Regions from separate parts of the Homo sapiens genome. Here regions 2 and 3 are each linked to region 1. The links come from fine-mapping of genetic effects on gene expression. A gene starts in region 1. Each other region holds a variant in brackets. All regions are shown on one strand. Distances are from middle to middle.

Region 1 (6,993 bases):
AAAAAGTAGGCCAGGTGTGGTGACTCATGCCTGTAATCCCAGCACTTTGGGAGGCCAAGGAGGGTGGATCAAGACCAGCCTGGCCCACATGGTGAAACCCCATCTTCACTAAAAATACAAAAATTAGCCAGGCATGGTGGCATGTACCTGTAGTCCCAGCTACTTGGGAGGCTGAGGCATGAGAATCACTTGAACCTGGGAGGCAGAGGTTGCAGTGAGCTGAGACCATGCCACTGCACTCCAACCTGGGCAACAGAGAGAGACTCTGTCTCAAAACAAAAAAAATTCCAAAAAGTATGTAAATCACGGGTGCTGTGAGCGGTGGCTCACAACTGCAGTCCAAGTGCTTTGGGAAGCAGAGGCGATTGCTTGAGCTCAGGAGTTCAAGAGCAGCTTGGGTAATGTCAGGTCTCTGAGCCCAAGCTAAGCCACCATATCCCCTGTGACCGGCACGTACACATCCAGATGGCCTTAACTGATGACATTCCTTCACAAAAGAAGTGAAAATGGCCTGTTCCTGCCTTAACTGATGACATTCCCTTGTGAAATTCCTTCTCCTTGCTCATCCTGGCTCAAAAGCTCCCCTGCTGATCACCTTGTGACCCCTGCCACCTGCCCGCCAGAGAACAATCCCCTTTGACTATAACTTTCCTTTACCTACCCAAATCCTATAAAACGGCCCCACTCCTATCTCCCTTCCATGACTCTCTTTTTGGACTCAGCCCGCCTGCAGCCAGGTGAAATAAACAACCTTGTTGCTCACACAAACCCTGTTTGGTGGTCTCTTCACACGGACACGAGTGACACGAGTGAAAGGTAACATGGATAGTGAGACCCTGTCTCTCCAAAAAATTTTTATAAAATAAAAAAACAAAAATTGAAAAAAAAGTATGTAAATCAAAACTTATTTAATTCAATGAAACTATAATACTGAAAACCGGGACAGGACAGCAGCCAGTTTCTTTCTCCTCCTTGATGAGAACCACCTCAGTTCCCAGAAAGGGAGGTTTGGTGAGATAACTGACTCAGATAAGAAAGCATCCAGTTTAGGGAGGAATGCCGGAGTACCCTCTGCCTAGGGCTAGAGAGAACTCTCAGGCTCTCCCATTCCCTCCCCAGCAACAAGCTGAGCAAATCAGTCGAAATCCATTTCTCTCTAAGGTCTCTGTCCATATCAAATAACGATCAAACTCATGAAAATTACTTCTAGCCACAAATCATCAATCATCATGTCCAGAAACCTATCCTGAATTCTCCCAACTCTCAAAGCTGGGTGTTACTCTATGTGCCCTGCAATAGCAGACAAGAGGCTGATGGCTCCATTACCAGGGAGTAGCTAAGCCAGAATCTGATTCCCAAGCCCCCTTGCTCATGTGCTCTCTCAGAATCCCTGCTGCTCCCTGCTGCCTGCCTGCCTGCCTGCCTGAAATGTCTCACACCCTTCTCTGCCTGAACTCTGCTGATTGATTATCTTTCCAATTTGAACCTCAGCTCTTCACAGCCTCTCCTGACACCTATGCTTCTGGGAACAAGTTGGTTGCTCCATCCTTTGTGATCCCCAAACACTCCTTTAGTAACTTTATGAAAGCACTCACACTGCAGTTTAGTTATTCATGTCTTCCCCAGCAGACAGCAAAGGTAAGCCCTGGGTTTATTCTTCCATGTACCTCTAGTACCTGGCACACAGCTTATCAAAAAATATTTACCTAATGAATGAATCTCCTTAGTCATCTAGTTCAACTTTTTCCTCTAAGGTTTATCCTTAGAATGTCTTTACTTGTTCCAGTTGAAGACTGATTCCCCCAGCTGGACTTTAGATGGCCTCTTGTTTAACGTCCTGGTACTGAGTTGAGCTTTCCCACATCTAAGGAGAGCCAGGCTGGTCTCTTGGGGTCTCCTCCAGGTCTCCCAACCTTAGTCTGTTTTCTTCACCCTCTGCTAACATCTGCCCACCATCCTGGTCACTATTTTTGGAATTCCTTTTGGTTTACCCTGTCCTTCCAAAAAATGTGGTGCCCCGCGTGAAGGCAACAAGGCAGCAGCAGTAAGGTTTTGAAGTCAATCAAGTATAAAAATTATCCTTAAAAATTCCAGGGGAAAGTGCCAGGTAGAATGCCTGAGTGATCCCAGGACAGCCAATCTCCCACTGCAATAGAATAGATAACTGTTTCTTTGCTAGAGGATCAGCTAGATAAACAGGACTTGCATTTAGGGTCCATGTTGCAGGGAAAAACATGTGTCTATAAATATCAGAACTCCATTTAAGAAGCACATGGGAATGAAATTAGACTGAGGAAATAGCAGATGATCATGATCACAAGGCATATACTTTGCGTGGGAATCATCCACACTATTGAAATCTTGTGTGTGTGTGTGTGTGTGTGTGTGTGTGTGTGTGTGTGTATGATGCAACTTTCTGTGTGGTCAGAGACAAGGAGAATGGAACTACCATCTTCCTCATTTCACGCATTTATGAGTTTACCCCATTTCCTGTGTAAATGTTCTTCTTCCCCCTACCTATTGACATCCTCCTTTATTTCTTTGTTGACTTTCAGAATTGAGTTGAACTTCAGAGGTTTTTCAACTTGGAGTTCAGGAACATCTGAAATTACATTAATGCTTGCAAGTACATTGGTATGTACATGGTTTTGAGCAGTCTCCTGGCTTTCTTACCTTTCGAAAGGAGGCTGAGATGCCAAAAGGTTAAGGACCATTGTCTTCAGTGTTTACCACATAAATTGCAAATAGGACATTGAGACTTTGTTAAGAGAAGTAGATTCACCTGTTTAACAAATAGTACACTCTGAAACAAAGAAATGCAGTTATAACCAGTGAAGTACTCTATTATCTTCCCTAAACAAAAGTACTGGGCGTGTAAAGAGCAAAACTGCCTACTCCACAGCAGATCACAGCAGACCTTCAAGGAGAAAGCTAAAAAGCCTCTTGAAAATTAACCCCCAGTTCCCCCTTTTCAAGAACTTGAATCTTGTGCTCATTCTGAAAGTTTCCACTGTGGTGGAGGAGCATAATAGGCACTTAAAGAAACTGGGTATTGTATTGGGATGAGGAGTGGAAAGGACTATAGAATTGTTTAACAGAACAACATGATAAAGACTTGGGTTGCATCAAAATCATCTCACAGAGATCAGGGCACGCTGATTCTGCAATCTGGGGAAGGGTGGCATCAAGACAGCCAATTCTGGAGCAGGTGAGAAGAGAATGTGGCCCAGGAGTGTTTCTGGATCCCTGGAATACCACCAGGAGGTAGAATACCATCCTTTCTATCTTGGCCCCAGAGTGTAGGTGACAATACCTTTGGACTGGCAAGTTCCCAGAGGACAAGAAAATGACTTCTTTAGAGCAAGGATTTCTTGACACCTTTTGGGACCCATCATGTTCCATTTTTTTTAAACACTAAAAGAAAGATTGCTTTCCCCGCCAAATAACAGCATGAACATTATCTTAAAAGGCAAAGACATTAATTTCTATGAAGCCAGGCACGAGACACTTTTGGGTGTCACAATAAGAATGACAATACGTTCTGATGTTGAGCACAGAAGGAGGGTGCATCAGTGAAAATTATGACAGACAGCATGACGGTGCTGAGAGGCAAGCTACGGATCCAAGCCCGCGACTGCTCAGCCAGGATCTCTGTTCCCTATGGGAGCAGTGAATCACCTGAACTTTGGGTCAATGGAAGAAGTAAAATGCATAACACCCTAATCCTAAGACACAAGTCCTGACCCCCTAAACCAAGGTTTTCAGCACTTTGCTAAAAACACGAACAAGCTCTAAGCCTGGCAAAGATGGCAATACATACCCAGGTTGTGGAAGACACTGCAGAGGTGGCCACTGGTCACGCTGGGCAGTTGAGCTGCTGAGAGTGCCCTGCCCAGCCAGAAATGGTCTTTAATACTCTTCCCCTCTTTCTTTCAGTTTCCCTTCTGAAAAAAGATGCTTTTGTCTTTCGTTCTCCCCACCCTGCATTCAGCTAAGGGTTTCTTATAAATCACCCAGATTCTCAGAAACACTTGAGCTCTTGACCAACCTTCTTGATGAGACTGTCCAATCAGGGGTGGGTTGCCTGGGGGGCCAGGTTGAGACCAATGAAACCCTCTTGAGAATCGAGCCATTAGCTGGTCATTGCATCAGCCACCCCTCACCCCCCGCTGGCCTCCAAATAACCTCCCCACCCTCTTCCCGTTCCCCACCCTCAGCGTCAGTGTGACTGATTTTGTGTAGTCGTGGGCGGTGGAAAGAGAAACTGTAAATTCCCCGCATCTGTTCACCGAGGCGGCACAGTGCAGTGGAAAGATCAGGAGTTCTGGGGTCACAGACGCCTGGGTTTCAATCCCAGCTTGGACTTATTCGAAACCTTGGGCAAGGGTCGCATTACTTTTCTGCTTCCCCTTCGGTTTCCTCATCTGTGGAATGGGCATGGAGAAGCCTGCTAACATTACCGTTGAGGGGACTAAGTGCAACACTACGCAAAGCCTCTGGCACATGGCAGGCGCTAAATAAAAATGGGGGCCTCTCTCCTCGGGAAAAGCGAACAGGCGGAGACGATGAAGGGTGCCAGTGGGAAAGGGAGACGGGGTGGGTCGGCGGCGCTCAGAGGAAAGGGGCGAGGGGTCGGTGGCAGGCTCCGCGCCTCACAGTGCCAGAACGCGGCGGGCAGCAAGCCGGGCTCTAAGGATACTCCCGGGAGGGCCAGGCCACTGGGCGCCGCGCCAGCGTCCCTCCATCACTCCCTCCCTTGTTTCCTCACTCCGCCCCGGCCTTACTCCCCTCGCTTACCCTGCCCAGCCGGGCCAGTCAGCGCTCCCGGCTCAGCAACCGGCTGTCTCCTGGGCGTCCGTGGAAACGCCGTCCGGACGGAACAACTTCCGGCCCGACGGCGCCGTCATTGGCTGTTCGCGCGGGGGCGGGGCAGAGGCCGCCACTGATTGGCTGGCGGCCGCGGCGTCGCGTCGGAACGTGACTGGATGGTAGTGTGCTGGCCGGTCTGCCTCCGGGAGAACCGAGCGCTTCCGGTGCGTGTGGTGAGCGGCGGGCCCCGGGCTGGAGGGGCCGGGACTGGGCAGCGCCTAAAGCGCCCCGTGCCGCTTAACGCGGTCTCTCATAGCCGCTCGCCTTCCTTTCACTTCCTGTTCCTTCAGAAAGCGCTGTGCCTTGGACCAACCTTACTTCTTACTATTGACAGCTCAGCTAACTCCTATTCATCCTTCAAAACCCATCTCTGGTCGTATCTTGTTTGTTGCTTTCATCGCTCTGGGGCCTCCGGGGGGATCTGTGTTTTGTGTTTGATTTCCACCCACACCAGACCCAGCATAGGGCTTGACAAAGAGTACGTAATCAGGAAATGTTTGTTGAATGGGAATATCCTATTTCTTTTACTTCCTAGCATCTCCCCCTCCCACCCGTTTGCATTCCAGAAATATTTTTAGACGCTGGGCATTGAATAGTGAACAAAACACAGAAAGTCCTGTCCTCATGGGGCTGACTTGCTGATAGTGACTGTCAGAGTCACTCGCTCCTTCCTTAGACTCTTCTCCAGTGTCCCTGCCTTCCCTTCCATCTTACTGTCTGTTCCTCTTCGTTTAATCCCTCATCTCCTTCCAGAGGGAGCACGGGCACCCTGGTGGTGGGAATCTGGGTGCATGGTGGGTGGTGCCTGGGCAGAGGAGTTGAGAGTGGCCTCGGGACCAGGCTTAGCATTTAGAGAACAGAAATGCCAAATTATTTGCAGTGCACGGTTCCATTAGTTTATAATTAGTCTTTCATATTATATTAGTTCCATTGGAGATGAGCTGGCTGGCTGGCTTTAGAAGTTGTTGTTGTTGTTGTTGTTTTTTGAGACCAAGTCTCGCTCTGTAGCCCAGGCTGGAGTGCAGTGGCGTGATCTCCACTCACCGCAACCTCCGCCTCCCGGGTTCAAGCAATTCTGCGGCCTCAGCCTCCAGAGTAGCTGGGATTACAGGCGCGCACCACTGCACACGGCTAAATTTTTTTTTTTTTTGTATTTTTAGTAGAGACGGGGTTTCACCATGTTGGCCAGGCTGGTCTTGAACCCCCGACCTCAGGTAATCCGCCCTTCTCGGCCTCCTACAGTGCTAGGATTACAGGCGTGAGCCACCGCGCCCGGTCGTTTTATTTAAACTCTGGCTTTGCGTGTGGAAGTTGTTACCTGCCTGGAATGGGCTGCGAACGGGGGCGGCATTACTAGAGGAGGCTGACTACAGACATTTATGGAATGATGACCTGACTTGTAGACCAGTGGAACCCTCAGGCGAATGATGCCACTTGGGGGAAAGGTGTGGAAGAGGTTGGGTGGTTGATTCCAGGGGACATAGAAACCCATTGTCTAGAAGAAGAGATGGGTAATAGGCTGTCTGGAATGACTTAGAAAAGGACTTGGAGGGAATCTGTTGATGCTGACCTGACTCCACCTGTTGGGGGATGGAGGCGGAGCTTGGCGTGTTTGATTAAGGTTGGGTGCACTGGGTTTTCTTGGAAGTCGGTCTATTGCCTGAGCGTTCTGTGCTGTTCCACCGCGCCCTCTGCTGTCCTAGGAGTGCCTAGCACCCTTCTTTTTCTCTGGATTGTGCTTGGTGCTAACAGCACAGAAGTAAAAAATTACCAAAGCACTTCTTTCTGGGAACTAATTGATAACCATGTATTGTGTATGATGGTTCAGAATTTCAGAAAGATTTTTTTTTTTTTTGAGACGAAGTTTCACTCTTGTCGCCCAGGCTGGGGTGCAATGGCGCGATCTTGGCTCACTGCAACCTCTGCCTCCTGGGTTTAAATGATTCTCCTGCCTCAGCCTCCCGAGTAGCTGGGATTACAGGCGTGTGCCACCACGCCCGGCTAATTTTTGTATTTTAGTAGAGACAGGGTTTCACCATGTTGGCCAGGCTGGTCTCGAACTCGACCTCAGGTGATCCGCCCACCTCGGCCTCCCAAAGTGCTGGGATTACAGGCATGAGCCAC
Region 2 (6,993 bases), 45 kb before region 1:
CGTCCGGGATACGTATCACCGAGAGCGCGTAGGTCTGGGGCCAGGGGCTGGGTAGGGAGACAGGGAGGGGATGCTGGGCCTGCCTCCGCTGCCCAGCAGGTGATGCCAGGCTCCCCGCTGGGTCTCAGCTCTCTCACCTTCCACATGGGAATAGTTCTGCCAATCTCATGGGTTCCTCTGAGGTCTGGAGCCAGGACATCTGGCAGCTAGAGGGGCCTCAGAAGGAGGTTCCCACCTCCAGCAGAGGGTCTAGAGGTAGCGTTCAGGTCTTTGAAAGTCGGAGGAGGGACCCATGCACTGCATTTCTGTCTCCTCCAGGCCAGGCACCCCTTGAAGGCAGTGTTGGGTGGAGTCTTTAGGGTCTAGCTCAGAGACCTGTCCGGAGCAGTACTTGGCGACATTCTCCTACGTGGACTTGGGGCTTGGTGCAGGCCAGGGGCTAGTTTGTGAAAGCAGCAGTGGCAGAACATGCTGTTACTAGTTCATTGTCAGGCCAGGAGCGGTGGCTTACGCCTGTAATCCCAGCACTTTGGGAGGCCGAAGCAGGCAGATCACCTGTGGTCAGGAGTTCAAGACAAGCCTTGCCAACATGGTGAAACCCCGTCTCTACTAAAAATACAAAAATTAGCTGGAGGTGGTGGCAGGCACCTGTAATCGCAGTGGCTCAGGAGGCTGAGGCAGGAGAATCGCTTGAACCTGGGATGCGGAGGTTGCAGTGAGTTAAGATCGTGCCACTGCACTCCAGCCTGGGCAAAAAAAAAAAGTTCATCGTCATCAAGCAGCTGGGCTGGGTTGGGCCTGGTCCTCTGGCTCTTCAGGTCCCCCCTTGTGACCTCCATCTTACAGCAGAGGAAACTGAGGCCCTGAGGCCGTGAATGACCTTCCCGAGGTCCGACAGCGGAGTGCGGAGCAGGGCTGAGTGTGGGCTCCCTCGGGTGGCTCCTCCTCCTGGCGGGGCCCTAGCCTGACCTGGATCCTGTCTGCTAGGTGTGGGGCTTCTACCGGGGCCTCTCGCTGCCCGTGTGCACGGTGTCCCTGGTATCTTCCGTGTCTTTTGGCACCTACCGCCACTGCCTGGCGCACATCTGCCGGCTCCGGTACGGCAACCCTGACGCCAAGCCCACCAAGGCCGACATCACGCTCTCGGGATGCGCCTCCGGCCTCGTCCGCGTGAGTAGGGGCAGCCAGGGTGGGGAAGGCCCAAGAGAGACTGCGGGGTCTGAGAGGTTATCCATCCTGGCAGGTGGGGAAACTGAGGCTTGATGAGGGCAGACACTGGAGGCCATGCATGGAGTCAGGGGCTGTGGGAGAAGAACTCGCATCCCGCCTAGGCTGGGCCTGGAACCCCTCAGCAGCACACAGATGAGGGGGTCGCTGCTGTCCTGCCCAGCACGGCCCCCTCAGGAAGGGGGCTGTGACCAAAGGGACTCTCCCTGTCACGGTCAGAAGGTCACCTAGAAGCCACCATGGGGAGCTGAATAGGCAGGCCCCGGGCACTCATGGCTCCAGGCACGGAGATGCCTGAACACAGTCGGCCATTGCTGGATGTGGGCATTTCTCCATCCTCAACTGTGCATGGAGCACCTGCGGTGCCCGCCTGCCCTCAGGGAGCCCTTGCTCCCGCAGGGGAGACAGACTTTCGCACTTGGTGACAGCACGGAGCCAGCTGGAGCAGCCCAGCAGCTGAAGGCCTGGCCCAGGGGTCCAGACCACCAGGCCCAGCTCTCAGCTCTGACCCTCATGAGCTGAGCAACCTTGGGCAAGCAAGGGAGACTCTTGGAGCTTCTGTCTCTCCATCTGTAAGAGGCATGATGAGAATTTAGTGAAATCATGAGGGTAAAGCCCCCAGCACACATATGTGGAGTCCGACATGAATGAGTACCCACAAAGTGGCAGCCAGTATGTCTAGTGATTTTTTTTTTTTTTTTTGAGACAGAGTCTTGCTCGGTTACCCAGGCCAGTGTTTAGTGGCACCATCTCCGCTCACTACAACCTCTACGTCCCAGGTTCAAGCAATTCTCCTGCCTCAGCCTCCTGAGTAGCTGGGACTACAGGCACGCGCCACCAAGCCCGGCTAATTTTTGTATTTTTAGTAGAGATGGGGTTTCACCCATATTGGCCAGGCTGGTCTCAAACTCCTGATCTCGTGATCCGCCTGCCTTGACCTCCCAAAGTGCTGGGATTACAGGCGTGAGCCGCTGCGCCTGGCCATGGTATTATTTTATTGCTGATATGTTACTAAATACGTTCTTGAACCTGGGTCATGGAAATTATCTTACACGTCCCAGGAGAAGCCTGGCAGGCTGGCCTGGGAGAGATGTGGCTGCCGAGGAAGCATGGGCTTTGGCATTGGGTGGGCGGAGCTGGCTTTGGGCCCCGTGGCCCCCCAGCCCTGGGCCAGCCTGCAGGGTCTCGGGGCCCAACCTCCTGAGGTCACCGTGAGCAACATGAGGCTGGTGGGAGGCCAGGTCCAGGCTGTGGGCAGAGCCACAGGTGGCTGACCCCTGCTTCCTTCTCTGCTCCAGGTGTTCCTGACGTCGCCCACTGAGGTGGCCAAAGTCCGCTTGCAGACGCAGACACAGGCGCAGAAGCAGCAGCGGCGGCTTTCGGCCTCGGGGCCGTTGGCTGTGCCCCCCATGTGTCCTGTGCCCCCAGCCTGCCCAGAGCCCAAGTACCGCGGGCCACTGCACTGCCTGGCCACGGTAGCCCGTGAGGAGGGGCTGTGCGGCCTCTACAAGGGCAGCTCGGCCCTGGTCTTACGGGACGGCCACTCCTTTGCCACCTACTTCCTTTCCTACGC[G/C]GTCCTCTGCGAGTGGCTCAGCCCCGCTGGCCACAGCCGGCCAGGTGAGCAGGGGCTGGAACCTGGCAGGGCGGGGAGCCCAGAAGGATGAGGAGGTCAAGGTGAGGTCGTGCTGCCCGCCAGTACCCGAGTGGGGGCTTGAACTTGGCCTCCTGCCTCCCAGAGTGGGCTCCTCAGTTCTCCCAACACCAAGAGTCAGGACAGACTTGCTGTGTCACAGAGTCAGTGTGTGGTTGTGGACAAGTCCCATTCCCCTCTCCCAAGCCTGTTGCAAATGAGGACGGGCCGGAAGCGTGAGTCCAGGGTGCGCTGCCCTGGGCGCCCCGATCAGGCTCCCAGTCAAGGCACTGTGGTCTCTCTGCAGATGTCCCGGGCGTGCTGGTGGCCGGGGGCTGTGCAGGAGTCCTGGCCTGGGCTGTGGCCACCCCCATGGACGTGATCAAGTCGAGACTGCAGGCAGACGGGCAGGGCCAGAGGCGCTACCGGGGTCTCCTGCACTGTATGGTGACCAGCGTTCGAGAGGAGGGACCCCGGGTCCTTTTCAAGGGGCTGGTACTCAATTGCTGCCGCGCCTTCCCTGTCAACATGGTGGTCTTCGTCGCCTATGAGGCAGTGCTGAGGCTCGCCCGGGGTCTGCTCACATAGCCGGTCCCCACGCCCAGCGGCCCACCCACCAGCAGCTGCTGGAGGTCGTAGTGGCTGGAGGAGGCAAGGGGTAGTGTGGCTGGGTTCGGGACCCCACAGGGCCATTGCCCAGGAGAATGAGGAGCCTCCCTGCAGTGTTGTCGGCCGAGGCCTGAGCTCGCCCTGCCCAGCTACTGACCTCAGGTCGAGGGGCCCGCCAGCCATCAGCCAGGGTTGGCCTAGGGTGGCAGGAGCCAGGGAGGAGTGGGCCTCTTTGATGAGAGCGTTGAGTTGCATGGAGTCGGTTGTTCATCCCAGCCTCCCCATGGCCCTCGCCTCCCATGTCTTTGAAGCACCCCTCCAGGGAGTCAGGTGTGTGCTCAGCCACCCTCTGCCCCATTCCTAGACCCTCACCCCCACCACTGTTCCTGTGTCTTCACGAGCTGTCCCTTACAGGCAGGGGCTTCCCACAGGCTGGGGGCCTCGGGGCGGGGAGCATGAGCTGGGCTGGCACCACGACTGAGGGCTCCCGGCTCGGCTTCTTCCCCACAGCAGGCTGCTCAGAGGGGGTGCTGCCGGGACTGCCATGCCCACCTGAGAGGGGCCTGGGGTGGCCGTCCTCGGCCGGTTAGGGAATTTGGGGTGAGGTTCCTCAGGAGCCCTCACTCTGCCTGTGGACGCTGCACCTGCCACTTAAAGACCCCAAAGACTCTGTTGGGAACTGTTGTCAATAAAATGTTTCTGAGGATGTTCAGGGCTGTGGCTCCATGGCCGTGGGCTGACTGTTCCCTGCCCCCAGCAGCTTTGCACCCTGTGAGGCCTGCCCACCCGTCCTGGGAGGTGTGGGGCTGTGGCCCTGTCCTGCTCCCTTCCTGCTGGATGAGCCCTCGAAACCTGAGCTGCTGGTGCTCCCACTGTGCAGATGGCCACACTGAAACCCCGCCTGGCACTCTGGCGGGCTCCACTCTCTCGGCCTTCTGGGCTGTGGGGCCTAGCCTATGGTGCTGAGTCCTGCCGCAGGGGGCTGTTTAGCAGGGTACTTACTGTCCTCACCACCCTATCCCAAACCCACCCGCTTTCTGAGCGAAAGCTGGTTCCAGCCAGGCCCTCCCACCTGCCCTGAATGTGAGCTCCCCTTCCAGAGGGGGCTGCCCGTGGGAGGGCGCCAGGTGCCTTGCACAGCTCACCACAGCCACCTGACAGCTCCAAGAGGGAGGGGGCCTTGCCTGCCGTCACGCATCAGGGAGGGGTGGGTGGACTGCAGCCAGTGCTTCTGAGGCTCCAGCACCCCCCCTCCTGGCATCATGTGGCTTCCAATGATGGGGGCTATCAGGGGCTAGGGCTGGCAGGTCCAGCGTGAAGCCACCGGGTCTCCACCACAGCAGCCCTCTGGCAGGGCCAGAGGCCACCTGCATTGACTATATTCACTCATGGACACTGACCTTGACTGTGTCTGTGGACTGAACGCTGTCCTGTGTTCTGCCGAACAAAATTCTTCTGCTCCCAGAGTAAGGGGTGGAACCCCTCTTGTTACGCCAGTCCCCATATGTGTGGTGCTGTGGGCACCTGACCTTATGCCCTGTGCCCTCTGCCAGGAATACCCTCCTACTGCTCTGCCTGGCTGGCTCCACACCCCAGGCGCCACCTCCTCCAGGAAGCTCTCCTTGCCTGACCACTGGGCTGCTCCCAAGCATCTCTTGCTCTGCTCCCTTGGGGACCTGGTTGGGTGTGTGGTCACTCATCTGCCTCTCCCCGGCCACAAGAGCCTGCGGGCTGTGCAAGGACTCCATCTAGCTCCAGGGCTGCTGCATAGTAGGGGGTGTGGGATGAATGAGCGAGTGAATGAATGAATGAATGAATGAATAAGTCCTGCAGTAGATTCCAGGAAGTGTGTCCAGCTTAGGAGTTGCAGAGGCTGAGATGTTGTGGCCGAATGCCGGGAAAGGGCAGGCGCTGACAGGTTTCCATGGCTCATCAAACACTGACCCCGGGACCGTTTTTGTCGAGAAGACCCCACCTGTTCGGCCTTGGCAGGAGGGTTCCTGGCAGCACTCCTGGCCCGGCTCTGGCAGTGGCTGCACTCTGGGAGGTGGGGGCCTTTGGCTCTCCCTGAGCCCGTGTCACTGAGCAGCTGGCTCTGCGTGTCACTGGGGAGGGGGTTTGCAGGAAAGGCCTCTGTCCTCACTGTTTTTTTTTTTTTTTTGAGACGGAGTCTCGCTCTGTCGCCCAGGCTGGAGTGCAGTGGCGCGATCTCGGCTTGGCTCACTGCAAGCTCTGTCTCCTGTGTTCACGCCATTCTCCTGTCTCAGCCTCCCGAGTAGCTGGGACTACGGGTGCCCACCACCACGCCTGGCTAATTTCTTTTTGTATTTTTAGTAGAGATGGGGTTTTACCGTGTTAGCCAGGATGGTCTCGATCTCCTGACCTCGTGATCTGCCCGCCTCAGCCTGGGATTACAGGTGTAAGCCACCGCGTCTGGCTGTCCTCACTGTCTTTACAACCTCTATGGTAATGACCAGAGAGTCCTGGGCCTCAAGGCCCAGCCAGTGTGACCCTGGGGAGGGCACATCTGCTGGTGCTGCAGGCGGGCACTGGGGGCCAGAGGCAGGCCTGTTGCTTGCCAAGTGCCGTCCTGGAGCAACGAGCTGTTCCACAGCCACCCGTGTGCTCAGCCACCCTCCTTCCTGTCCCTGCTTCCCCACCCAGTGCTGTTTTGTGTGCTTCTCAGGCACCATCTCCTTTCAGGCAGGCTCAGCTGGTCTCTCCTCCAGGCTGGGGGCCACGGGACAGAGAGACTGAGCTGGGTTGGCCCCACATCTGTCTGACAAGTGGACATTACCAGCCAGAGCAGGAGTGCTCTTCCGGCAGAGCCTCTGGCACCACGGTGGTGCAGGCACCCGGCCTCATGCCTCATCCCCAAACACTCATGGGGCCACTGCAACCTGTCCATCCTAATCCAGACACGCCCATGTCTTTCAGGGAACATTTCTCTCAGAAACCACTGGTTTTTAGCAAAACTGGGGAGGCTTGGGAGACATGTGGCTCCCCTGTGTCCTGACCAGCAGTGGCCTTGGGCAAGTCACCTGAGTATTGGACCCAGGGCACCCCTCCTAAGACCCTAAACAGGAGGCATCACTGCTTTTTACAGGGGAGGAGATGGAGGTCCTGGGAGGTTAAGTGACCTGGCCAGAGTCACACAGCCGGTGAGGGGAGAAGCTGGTTGGTGTTGGCTCACTCCTCCCTGGGGCCAGGGTCTCACCAGGGCCCTGCCAATAGATGCTGTGGCTGGGTGGACAATGACAGCAGCAGCTGTCACTGACTCCATTTGTCACCCCTCATTGCACTTGCGTCACAGGTGCAGTAGAGCGACGAGGAGTCATATTAGTTGCCCAAGGCAACAGGCTAGTGAGCTATGTGGCCTCTGTGGGTGGCTCACCCCCACTGGCCATAGCCAGCCAGGTGAGCAGGGGAGGGCAGGGGTGGGGCCCAGGCCAGCAGGAGTCGAGACCGGGAGAGGAAGCCTACTTGAGGTCATGGTGCACCCGGGTACCTGAGTGGGACTCGAGCCC
Region 3 (6,993 bases), 25 kb before region 1:
TGGCAGCTGACTGAAGGCCTCAAGGGCCTGCTATGCCTGAAGCCACGCACCAAACATCAAGTAGAGGAGGGGATCAGAAGGCCCAGCCACAAGTCTCAAGGACCAAAAGTCTAAAAGTCTACGAAGCCAATGCATCTGAAAGACACATGGAAATTTATGGAGAGGGCCATGAAGGCATGCACGTGGGAGGCAAACCATTTGCACATCTGCTGGGGTGGAGCCATGGAAGGAGAGCAGGGCAGGGGTGGGAAGGCTCCAGAAGACCTCGTGTCAAGCCCCTCATCTTACATGTGGGGACACTGAGGCCCAGGGAGACAAAGACTCAAAGGCCCTCTCATGGGCAGCAGACCCAGCTGTCCTTCTTCATCACCCCTGGGTTCCATCCAAGGCCACCCTACACTGACTGGGGTCCCACCAGAGCTGTTGGAACTCCAAAGTCATCCTTAGATTTTTCTTTCTTCTAAACCTTAAGACGGGTGACAAGAGAGGGACAGACTCACATCCTGAAGTGCAGCTTCACCCAACCCAGAGAAGCTGCTCAATGCATTACACTAGCTAGTCAGATTCCAGGACAACGATGACCCACCCACGCCTGGGCATCCTACTTAAAGAGACAGTTGCAAACGCTAACATCTCAGAGATATTTAAACCAGGCATGTGTCTCCTCCAGAACTCTGCTCCTTTTTGAAGGGTGCAGGGAGTGGTCCACAGCAGCAGTGGGCCTCTTACCAATGCAGTCGCTGTCAGTGAAGCCGAAAATGCCTTTCACTTGGTTGAAGGTAACATGCTTTTGAATCTTCACCACATTTTTGTAGAAACCTGAGCTCATCCTGCAAAGACAACGAGAATGAAATCCCAAACGGAGGGCGGCCTTCACTGAAGGCAAAGTCACAGTTATTAAAATTGGATGCCAATGAGTAGTGGCATGGGCCAGACTCGGGGCCACATTGTGGTCAACACGTAAGCACTGGGAAGGTGCCAGGAAGTCATCTGTAGGCAAAGATACCTGCATCAGGCAAAGCAGACACACGTTTACCTGTGGAGTTGACTGGGAAAGGCAGAAACCAGTGTGAAACCGACGTGAAGCAGACATACAAACAAGGCAAGAACACAAGCAGATTCAGAGACTTGCAGCTAGCATGAAAAATTTAAATTCTGCCAGGGTCAGCAGTTCAGTGGGCTGTGGAGCTCAAGTCTGGGAGCCCCCAGGAGCTTCTTAGCTGAGACATACTGTGTTGTGGGAGACCATCTGCTTGTTGTCGGATGAGCGTATGGATAGAAACCCACGGCCCGAGAAGGAGGAAGGCCTGTTTCAGTGCAGCTGGTCCTCCTAGTCTCTGGCCACTGCTCCCCCCTGCTGTTTGGGCAGAACTAACCCTATCCACAGCAACAGGGCTAGGCCACAGTGGCTGATTCAAGCAACCCAACTCTCTCTTCTGGATGGTGAGGGGTGTGGGTACCAGGCCTGAATGTGTGGCATCCATTCCACTACCAGAAGGAACTAGGCTGAAGAAGAAGCAAACACAGTGGGGTGTAGGGGTTTGGCAGAACCCAGAGTGGCTTCTTTTTTTTTGTTTTGAGACAGAGTCTCACTCTGTAGCCCAGGCTGGAGTGCAGTGGCATGATCTTGGCTCACTGCAACCTCCATCTCTTGGGTTCAAGCAATTCTCCTGCCTCAGCCTCCTGAGTAGCTGGGATTACAGCTGCTCGCCACCATGCCTGGCTAATTTTTGTATTTTTAGTAGAGATGGGGTTTCACCATGTTGTCCAGGCTGGTCTCAAACTCCTGACCTCAGGTGATCCACCTGCCTTGGCCTCCCAAAGTGCTGGGATTACAGGTGTGAGCCACCGCGCCCAGCCAAGTGGCTTCTTATATTGCATCTTTGTATTACTATATTCAGTAGCTTTTTCTCTAGGCCCTACCATGTGTTAGACACTACGAGGGAAAAGGGGGAAGGCTGGTGTCTTTTAAGTGTTTGCACCATGTGGCAGGAGCTGTGCTAGATGCTGCGTATGTGTCAATACTCCTAAAATCCCCTTCAAAGTAGTAGCATTGCCTCCACCTTACAGTTAGACTAGGCTCAAAGAAGTTCAGGGTCATAGTCACAGGCCCAGTGAGTACAGGGGCTGGGATCCCAACACAGATTCACCTGGCCCCAAAGCCTATGCTTTTCTCACCACATCTTATCCTTTAGAAGAGTTTAGACTTTTGGGGCAGGGTGGAGAACTACTGAATGTCTTTGTGCAGGTGGGGTGGGGTGTCAGGAGTGCAGGAACACTGGCCGTTTGTGCTGGGCGAAGCACAATGCTGGGAGGCCTGTAACGGTCAAGGTCAGTGCCAAGGCCTGTCCAGGTTGAGCAGAGGCAGCACGTGAGGGATGGACTGTGTCTTTCGCCTAGCAGCCGGCTGAGTTTCAGGCCCTGGGGGGCACTGGAGAGGGCGGGCGCAGTACTGTGAAGGGGCATGCCAGGAGAACCCAGCATCTGTGTCACCCACTCAGCACAATGGAAACAACAGAGAGCAAGAGCACAGCCAACAGCAGCACTGCCTGGAAAGATGCGGCCTTTGTCCTCCTGCCAAGCAAGCCAAGAACACCGCAGGCAGGGAGGGTCCCTCCTGGGCACCGCAGCAGGACTCACAGCCAGTAAGGACAGCAGCTGTCTGTCACCTGGGGAGATGGGCTGCAGCAAAGACTCCATGCGCCCTTGGGATTGAGGCACCTGGGACACCCTAACCCCTACAAGGAGGGAAAGTCTCCAGTACCCCCAAACTGTGGCAGGACTGTAGCTTCACGGCGTCTGACTGGTATTTCTGAGTTAGAGCACGCTGCCCTTTCTTAGAAGACTGGTCATTACTTGCTGCAAGCTGCTGCCACTGTGCTGGCTGCAGGGTGAATGCAGGTGCTGCACCGTGAGCACGTGTGATCCTCCCCTCAAGGGACGGCTGTCCCCCTGCACAGCTGGGACGGACCCATCACGCAAAGCAGCCATGCCAGTGCCGGCACATGGAGGCTTCTCACTGGCTGCAGTGAACACACCTAACTGTATATCACATGTGGCTGAACCACCAGTTACCCCAGGGAGGGCACCTGCTTTTCACTCTCAGACAGGGTTTAAAGTGGGAAGAGATTTTAGATTACAACATTTACTGAGCACTCCCCAGGTGCCAGGCGTGGCTTGAAGCACTTTATATGCAGTGCAGGCACTATCATCTCCTGACCACAGTCTTCTCTACCCCTGCCCTTTGTCCCTATTATCACCATAGAACTTATTATCACCTGATTGATCACCTGTTAGCTGATTCTCCCCATTAGAAGAGAGGCTTTACACAGCTGCTGAGATAATGGTTTTGCTCCCTGCTGTACCCCCACCATGAGTCTGGCATATAGCAGATGTCCAATAAATATTTGTAGAACAAAGGAGCAGAGTGAAGAAAGCAGGCAGAGAGGAGCTCCTCCCATGCCCGGGCCACACAGTGGAAGGCTCCTCCCATGCCCAGGCCACACAGCGGACGGCCGTCAAGCAGAGCACTTGCAACCTCTGCTATGCTGCCCCCCACTAGCACCCAGCTCCCTTCCTCACAGGAACATGGAAGCTCAGAGATTTAAGGACTTGCCCAAGGGAACAAGACCAGGCAGGGGCAGAGCTGGGTCTGGAACACAAGTTTTCAGACTCCCAGCTCAGTGCCTTTGCATCCCTCAGGGCCCTGGGCAGGAAGGCCGTTCTGGGGCCATGTGCAATGTGCAGGGGGAACTGCACTGGCCTCCTCCCTCATGGAGGCCTCACCACCTCCCTCCCACTCAAAGAGGGCGATGGCTGGCTTTGTTGAATTTCCAGCTCCTAAACACCAGGAAGGAGCTTTATTAAGCCAAAGATATAGATTTTGAGTTAAATTCAAGAAAGAAAAGTAAAATGCTCAAATGTTTAGAAGAAACTCTTAAAGTAAAATGTTTGAATAGAGGATTTACCCTTTAAAATGTCTCTCCTCACTTTAGGTTCAATATAAAATGCCTTTCAAGAAAAGATATCATCGACCCTTTTGGTTGACATACTGTCTGGGTTTCATCTTTACCCCATGTTTGTAAGAAAAAAGGAAGTTCCCGACCAGGTGCAGTGGCTCACGCATCCCAGCACTTTGGGTGGTCGAGGCGGGTGGATCACTTGAGGTCGTTCGAGACCAGCCTGGCCAACATGGTGAAACTCCGTTTCTACTAAAAATACAAAAATTAGCTGGGTGTGGTGGCGGGCGCCTGTAATCCCAGCTACTCAGGAGGCTGAGGCATGAGAATTGCTTGAACCCAGGAGGCAGATATTGCAGTAAGCCGAGATCATGCCACTGCTCTCCAGTTTGGGCGACAGAGCAAGACTCCATCTCAAAAAAAGAAAAAAAAAAAAAAAAAGGAAGTTCTTATTTAGCGA[A/G]GGTGGAGGCTGGTCAGGAGCTGCAACCGCAGTTGCCAAAGAGACAGCACGAGGAATGGCGGCCTCACTCCACGTTCAGAGAGCGCTGAAAGTGGGGTTGCTCAGGTGGTGGTCTTTTCACATGGACTGTTCAAAAGTTCATCTACCCCATCGTGCATCTATTGGCTGAATCAGCTTCATGGACTATTATAGGCACTTGCTCTTGTCTCACCACCAGCATTTATATCCATCAACGAAGCGGCTCAGCTTTGCTTCTGCTGTGTCTGTGGGGCCCAGGAGGGGATGGGCCACAGAGAGCACAAATTCAGGAACTATGTGTCTTACTCAGCTAGTGGGGAGAGGGCCACACTGTACCAGATGTGGCAGAGGTAAGGCCCAGCCTGATGGAGGACCAGAGAGGGGCATCTAAATTTGGCTGTGGGGAGGGAAAGCTCCTAGGAAAAGGTGATGCTTGATCATGCCTTTGGAAGAAAGTGTAGGAATTAGCTAAGCTGGGGGTGGCAGGGTCAGGAGAGTGGGTGGGAATTCTGGGCAGCACAGAGCATGTACAAAGGAGAAGGATGTGGAACTGCAAGCTGTTCCACTGAGCTGGAGGTAGCAGTGACGCTGGAGAGGAACACAGGGCCAATCACGAAAGGGCTCGTGTGCCAAGTGAAAGGTGAGAATTCTCAATGTCATCTAAGGAGGAGAGCTGGGAAAGACCCGCAAGTGGAAGATGAGATTAGCTCTGAGTTTTAGGGAGATCACTGGCTGGTGGGGGCAGTGGTGGTGTGGGAAGAGGATAGCAGCTACTGGGCAATGCCAGCAGCACTGCCTGACTGGAAAAGGAGAAGCAGAACCCACAGTTGTCTCTGCAGAGGTTCAATCAGTTGAATCATTGTATGGAATGGGGTGAGAATAAGGAAATAAAGTGCCATGAAAATTATACTAACACGGCTGGGCATGGTGGCTCACACCTGTAATCGCAGCACTTTGGGAGGCTGAGGCGGGGAGGATCACTTGAGGTCAGGAGTTCAAGACCAGCCTGGCCAACATGGCAAAACCCATGAGTGAGACTCTGTCTCAAAAAAAAAAAAAAAAAAGAAAATTATGCTAATGATGACATCTATGTTCTTGTTTGATCCCATTTCATGGACACGGCTGCTATGACACACAGCCACTAAACCCAGGTGCCAGGATCTGGATCCCTGTCTATTTTCCTTCCTTCAAGGATGCCACAGGGCCTCCATGCTCACATGGCTGAACCAAGAGAAGTAATTTTAAAAGATCTAATAGGTGCTGGGCGTGGTGGCTCATGCCTGTAATCCCAGTGCTTTGGGAGGCCGAGGCAGGCAGATCATGAGGTCAGAAGATCGAGACCATCCTGGCTAACACAGTGAAACCCCGTCTCTACTAAAAATACAAAAAATTAGCCGGACATGGTGGCGGGCACCTGTAGTCCCAGCTACTTGGGAGGCTGAGGCAAGAGAATGGTGTGAACCTGAGAGGCGGAGCTTGCAGTGAGCCGAGATTGTGCCACTGCACTCCAGCCTGGGTGACAGAGCGAGACTCCGTCTCAAAAAAAAAAAGAAAAAGAAAAAGCTAACAGTTTTACTGGCTGATAGAAGGGCGAGATTTCCTATCAGGGTATACATTGCTCTCAATGGATATAAAACCACTACTCAGTTTCTTTCTTTTTTTTTTTTTTTTTTTTTGAGACAGAGTCTCACTCTGTTGCCCAGGCTGGAATGCAGTGGCATGATCTCGGCTCACTGCAACCTCCGCCTCCCAGGTTCAAGCGATTCTTCTGCCTCAGCCTCCCAAGTAGCTGCAACTACAGGAGCACGCCACCACACCCGGCTAATTTTTGTGTTTTTAGTAGAGATGGGGTTTCACCATATTGGCCAGGCTGGTCTCGAACTCCTGACCTCCTGACCTTGTGATCCACCCACCTCAGCCTCCCAAAGTGCTGGGATTACAGGCATGAGCCACCGCGCCTGGCTGCCACTACTCAGTTTTAAGGTCTTATAAGAGGGAACGTTCTGGGGATGCGGCTCTAAGCAAGTCCTCCTGTGCTCACTGCTCACCTGCCCCTTTAGTGTCCCTCTTATCCTGCCTCGGCATGGTCCCTGATGGTGAGCTAACATGGGAGGGCCTGCTCAGAGCCCAGCCTGGGCTGCAGGAGCATAGCAATGAACCCACTCCTCCTGGGGAATCACTTTAGGGGAGGAGTAACACGTCTTTGGGGAGTGGAGTAACATGCCTTAGGGGAGTACCATGCCTTAGGAGAGACCACGCCTTAGGGGAGTACTATGACTTAGAAGAGTATCTCACCTTAGGGGAGTACCACAACTCAGGTGCTCAAGAAATATTTGTTGAGCTAGATAGTATCCTTCTTGTGATGGTTGACCAAAGTCTTATTTTTCTAACACATTTCTTGGTAATCATTTGGGATGAAACTTGAAGGATTTTCAGAATGAAATATTTTGGTTTATTAAATGGCTGATTAAAAGAACTAGACTGAGGAAACTGTGTAACCACTGAGTCTTTTCTCTGTGAGGAAAAGGTGCGTTGAAAAGGAGGAAGACATAACTC

Evidence for each region. PIP is the estimated chance that this variant, and not a neighbour inherited with it, causes the effect.
Region 2: its variant is the best candidate, but not a certain one, in a credible set for the expression of WARS1 in monocytes after Pam3CSK4 (Quach 2016, PIP 0.70).
Region 3: its variant is the best candidate, but not a certain one, in a credible set for the expression of WARS1 in whole blood (TOPMed, PIP 0.66).

Annotation. Positions count from the first base shown.
Region 1 is chr14:100,371,463-100,378,455 of GRCh38, forward strand. It overlaps WARS1 (tryptophanyl-tRNA synthetase 1), which reads right to left and starts at 3,885. Exons shown (of 11, transcript NM_004184.4): 1 at 3,821-3,885. WDR25 (WD repeat domain 25) reads left to right here and starts at 5,023. Exons shown (of 7, transcript NM_001161476.3): 1 at 5,023-5,033. RefSeq lists enhancers at 1-714, 3,837-3,976, 3,987-4,346 and silencers at 4,857-4,916, 5,107-5,156.
Region 2 is chr14:100,326,201-100,333,193 of GRCh38, forward strand. It overlaps SLC25A47 (solute carrier family 25 member 47), which reads left to right. Exons shown (of 6, transcript NM_207117.4): 3 at 1-28; 4 at 988-1,170; 5 at 2,526-2,844; 6 at 3,165-4,221. The coding sequence ends at 3,445. Among named protein-coding and RNA genes, the nearest start is that of SLC25A47, 6.4 kb to the left of the region's middle. RefSeq lists an enhancer at 6,747-6,796. The variant G/C (reference allele first, on the strand shown) is at 2,801.
Region 3 is chr14:100,346,017-100,353,009 of GRCh38, forward strand. WARS1 (tryptophanyl-tRNA synthetase 1) reads right to left here. Exons shown (of 11, transcript NM_004184.4): 7 at 730-830. Among named protein-coding and RNA genes, the nearest start is that of WARS1, 26 kb to the right of the region's middle. The variant A/G (reference allele first, on the strand shown) is at 4,420.